Regions from separate parts of the Homo sapiens genome. Here region 2 is linked to region 1. Evidence: fine-mapped expression QTL. Tissue or cell type: sun-exposed skin. Region 1 holds a variant in brackets; the other region holds the start of a gene. All regions are shown on one strand. Distances are from middle to middle.

The links. PIP is the estimated chance that this variant, and not a neighbour inherited with it, causes the effect.
Region 2: it holds the start of ZNF182, and the variant in region 1 is fine-mapped to the expression of ZNF182 in sun-exposed skin (GTEx, PIP above 0.99). The same link has a PIP of 0.9 or more in tibial nerve and transverse colon.

The regions. Positions count from the first base shown.
Region 1 is chrX:48,117,968-48,120,655 of GRCh38, forward strand. It overlaps the pseudogene SSX6P. Among named protein-coding and RNA genes, the nearest start is that of SPACA5B, 11 kb to the right of the region's middle. The variant G/C (reference allele first, on the strand shown) is at 1,479.
Region 2 is chrX:48,002,557-48,005,244 of GRCh38, forward strand. ZNF182 (zinc finger protein 182) reads right to left here and starts at 1,433. Exons shown (of 6, transcript NM_001007088.2): 1 at 1,353-1,433; 2 at 952-1,146; 3 at 39-97. The coding sequence starts at 53. It also overlaps a transcript of SPACA5 not described here. RefSeq lists an enhancer at 1,049-1,358.

The DNA of each region.
Region 1 (2,688 bases):
ACAGTAGAACTTCTTTCAAAGTTGGAGTCAGTCCTCTCTAGCTATGAAAGTTTTAGATGGCATCTGCTTCCAATAGAAGGCTGTTTAATCTATATTGAAAATCTGTTGTTTAGTGTAGCCACCTTCATCAGTGATTTTAGCTAGATCTTCTGGATAACTTGCTGCAGCTTCTCCATCAGTGTTTGCTGCTACACCTTGCACTTTTATGTTATGGGGACAGCTTCTTTCCTTAAACCTCACAAACCAACCTCTGCTAGTTTCACACGTTTCCTCTGCAGCTTCTTCACCTCTCTCAGCTTTCCTGGACTGGAAGAGAGTTTGGGTCTTGCTCTGAATTAGACTTTGGCTTAAGGGAATGTTGTGGCTGGTTTCGTCTTCTATCCTGACCACTTTCTCATTTCAGCAGTAAGGCAGTTTTGCTTTCTTATTCGTGTGTTCACTGGAGTATTAGTATTATTATTTTCTTCAAGAACTTTTCCTTTGCAGTATATACTATTATTTCCTTCAAGAACTTTTCCTTTGCATTCACAGCTTGGCTGGTGCAAGAGGCCTAGCTTTCAGCCTGTCTTGGCTTTCAGCATGCCTCCTCACTAAGCCTAGCCATTTCTAGCTTCTGATTTAAAGTGAGAGACATGCGACTCTTCCTTTCATTTGAACACTTAGCGGCCATTGTAGGGTTGTTCATTGTCCTAATTTCAGTATTGCTGTGTCTCAGGAAATAATAGGGAGGCCCAAGAAAAGGAAGAGAGGCAGGGAAGAGCTCATCGGTGGAGCAGTCAGAACACACACAACATTAATTGATTACGTTCGTCATCTTCTGTGGGCGCAGTTCTTAGTACCCCCAAAACATTTACACAGAACAGGGTGACTATAGTCAATAATAACTTAATCATACATTTAAAAATAACTAAAAGAGTGTAAATGGATTGTTTGTAACACAAGGATAAATGTTTGAGGGGATGGATACCCTATTTTCCACGATGTGATTACTACGCATTTGCATGACTGTATCAAAGCATCTCATGTACCCCATAAGAATATACACCTACTGCGTACCCACAAAATAAAGAACAAAAATTATTTTAAAAGACTAAAAAACAACAAAAACAATTGCAATAATAACATCAAAGCTCACTGATCACAAATCACCATAACAGATATAATAATAATGGAAAAGTGTAAAATTGGTGAGAATTTCTAAAAAAAAATGCAGTATCTGCGAAGCACTACGAAAATGAGGTGCAATAAAACGAGGTATGCCTGTGTGCCCTTAACAAATACTTGCAGAATGAAAGGAGGTAAGGGTGAATGTTCCCGTAAGTGAAGAGGTTGGTAATCTAAACGTCACAACAGAAGGAGCCAGAAGCTAAAAACTTTAATTGGTATTTGTCGTGTATTGGTGTGGGTTTAAGGTCTCAGCCTCTCTAAGCCAGAGAATGTGAAAAACTGGATAAAGAAGGCCCATGGGCACTTGGGAG[G/C]GGGGAGGCATCTCCTGCTTTTGAGAAAACAGAGCGTAACACTCTCCAACCTACCCAACCCTCATCTCCCAACTCTTCTCCATCATAGGACCCAAAAGGGGGAAACATGCCTGGACCCACAGACTGCGTGAGAGAAAGCAGCTGGTGATTTATGAAGAGATCAGCGACCCTGAGGAAGATGACAAGTAACTCCATAAGTGAACCTTCGGCTCACCCTCCACATCCCTGCAGATGTGCTATTCTGTTATGGTACTGGTATCCCATCTGTCACTTGTTCCCCAAATCATTCCCTTCTCATAATTTTCTACTGTACAGCATTGAGGCTGAACGATGAGATTTCCCATGCTCTTCCTACTCCCTGCCCTGTATATCCAGGGATCCTCCCTACCCTGGATGCTGTGGGCTCCCAAACCCCAGGTCAGCACTGATATGCGGGCCACACCTTTCTCTAGCCTAGAAATTGATAACTCAGGCGAGGAAGTCACTGTGGCATGAACAGATGGTTCACTTCGAGGAACCGTGGAAGGCGTGTGCAGGTCCTGAGGTAGGGCAGAATCAGAGTGTGCAGGGTCTGCAGGTCAGGAGGAGTTGAGATTGAGTTGCCACGTGGTGGGAACTCACTGCCACTTATTTCCTTCTCTCTTCTTGCCTCAGCCTCAGGGATACGACACATGCCCATGATGAGAAGCAGAACGTGGTGACCTTTCACGAACGTGGGCATGGCTGCGGACCCCTCGTCATCAGGTGTATAGCAAGTGAAAGCAAGTGTTCACAACAGTGAAAAGTTGAGCGTCATTTTTCTTAGTGTGCCAAGAGTTCGATGTTGGCGTTTCCGTTGTATTTTCTTGCAGTGTGCCATTCTGTTAGACATTAGCATTTTCGTTGATGAGCAAGACATGCTTAATGCATATTTCGGCTTGTGTATCCATGCACCTACCTCAGAAAACAAGTATTGTCAGGTATTCTCTCCATAGAACAGCACTACCCTCCTCTCTCCCCAGATGTGACTACTGAGGGGAGGTCTGAGTGTTTAATTTCCGATTTTTTCCTCTGCATTTACACACACACCACACACGCACACACACACACCAAGTACCAGTATAAGCATCTCCCATCTGCTTTTCTCCACTGCCATGTGTCCTGGTCAAGCCCCCCTCACTCTGTTTCCTGTTCAGCATGTACTCCCCTCATCCGATTCCCCTCTATCAGT
Region 2 (2,688 bases), 120 kb before region 1:
GTAAAATAGAGGAATGAAGAAACAGACAACATACTTACCTGGGGTTTGGCCATTTCCTGCTCTTCTTGGGAAAAAGCAGAGATGTGTGACGGCCGAGCTGGAACAAGTGGAGAAGAGTACAGCAGATGAGGAGACCCCATCAGACTTTCAGTGCCCAGAATTAGCTGCCTAGCAATCCCCTCACATCAGCTGGCCATCAGACTGCTCTCTGGAAGAGTCTGGGCAACCATGTGATTTTAACAATCTGTGTATTATTCACTCTTCATGTGAACATTGAACACAAAAGGTTTTATATACACATATATTAAATTGTGTACTGACCCATAAAGTGTATTTGTAGGTATTTTCCTTAAGGAAATAATTTATCATAATGTATCATAATTTCTCTGCACGTACCCACGTCTCAGCATTGATTTCAATAATGCCAAACTTAAACGATCCTCTATGACCCATAAGGGATTAATAATAACAAAATATAAAAGATAAAATGCTACAAAGCTGTTAAAAGCGTTATATGGAACTGTACAGTATCTATGCACTTTGTGGTATATGTATCTCAACTAAACGTTTTTAAAAGGTGTACAAAAAAATCCTAAGGTGAATTACAAAGTAGGTTTTAAAACTGCGGGAATCCATTTTAAAGTTATATGTTAAATGTTTAAAAGGCATACCCCTATACACACCAAAAATGTCTAAAAACGGACATTTAAATGTGTGGGGGAAGAATTAGTTCCTGTTGATTTTCTTTTTCTCTATTTCAGAATTAATCTATATATTCAAATGTTATTTATTAAATGCCAAAAAAAACTACACTCTAAAACTATTATCCCAATTACATTTTACCCCCATCTCCCTCAGACCCCGCACCTACCCCTCCTCCCACGCCCCCAACTTGGGCGAGGCCCGGGGTCAGGTGAGACCTCGCAGGTGCCTCTCCTTCCTTCTGCTCACCTCACCGGGGCCGCCTTGCCCAGAAGCCGGAAAGAGGCCTTCGGGTGCGGGGGTGCAGGTTCACTTCGGCCGGAGCATTCACACCAGGCCCCCACCTCGGGGCTTGGGCAAGGGGAGAGGGCAGAGGGAGAAGCGGGGCGCGTCTAAAGAGGGGTCTGAGGGATGCGCATGAACCTTTAGGGGCAGGTCACTGTGCTGGAAAACGTGTAAAAGTCAAAGTTTAATAAGCCCCATTTAATCCTGCTTAGCCCCCATAACTTTGTTCACCAGTGAGCCCCTAGAACCTCGTCCACTGACCTCTCGGTCCCCCATCACTCAACCCCCAACTCCCACTTCACTCATCCCACAGAACTCCCCATCACTCAGCCCACGACCCCTAGCACTTGCCCCCTCAACCTCACTCTCTCTCGATAACAGATTTTCTGCTCGCTGCTCAGGAGACCGTTACAAAGCCTGGCCCCAACAAGCACTTCCGCTTCGGGACCGACTCTTTGGCACCGCAGCCTAAAGGGCTGCAGGGGTCGGTTCTGCGCACGCTCAGTGGCGCCTTTGAGACCCCGTCCGCCAATAGTCAACATGGGGCCGCAGCGCAGGCGCAGAGGGAAGGTAGCCTTGCCGGTGACGTCACTGCTCCAGGCCAGATGGCCGTGCCCACCGTGTCCTTTTGCTGCTGGGGCTGCGTCGCAAAGCGGTTGTTTACTTAGTTATGCAGAGGCAGGCACTCCTAAGACTTCAGACACCAATTTTCTTACGGCAGGGCGGGGAGGGGAAGTGCCCAACTAAGGAAAAGATTCTAGCAGGCGGCAATTTCGCACTTTGAACTTGGAGGGCAGCAACAGGGTTGCAGGTGTAAAATAACGGGAAGGCGGGATGCGTGGCTAAATTGCTCTGCGTGCACAAAGAGTAGGAGGTAGGGAAAAGCCACTGGCTTCATCCAGTGGCCAGGACTGGGAGTTTACGTTGTAGCGTTTGAAGGACGGTGGGTCGGTATGCAGACAAACAAGCTGAAAAATAAACGGCGATGTGGGACACACACACCGGGGGTGAAGGGGTATATTAAGTGGTGGCTAACAGGTTGCTTTTTCTGGATGAGTAGACAGTGTCAGTGTGTTGGGAGTGTAGGGGGTGTAGGCTGGGGCCAGGTGCTGTAGGGCCTCCTTGGCCAGGGAGCTCATATTTCATTCTGGACATATGGGAAACCATAAGAAGGATCCGATCTGTAAAGACCAGTCTGAAGCAATCTAGCATTATATAGTAACGTTAAAAATACACATATATTGGGCTGGGTACGGTGGCGTGCGCCTGTAATCTCAGCACTTTGGGACGCCAAGGTAGGCGGATCACCTGAGGTCAGGAGTTCAAGACCAGCCTGGCCAACATGGTGAAACCCCGTCTCTACTAAAAACACCAAAAATTAGCCGGGCTTGGTAGCACGCCTGTGATCCCAGCTACTCTGGAGGCTGAGGCAGGAGAATCGCTTGAACCCGGGAGGCAGAGGTTGCAGTGAGCCAAGATCACACCACTGCACTCCAGCCTGGGCAACACAGTGAGACTCCATCTCAAAAACAAAAAACAAACAAACAACAACAACAACAAAAGGAATGGAGCTTCCCAGTAGACAAGACAAAGAAAGAAAGAAAGTAAAAAAGGAACTCACATCTGTTGCTCCCTGACACATCAGCACCTCCTGGGTATACAATTTATCCACTCTCTCAATGCATTAGGAGGTAGAAAATA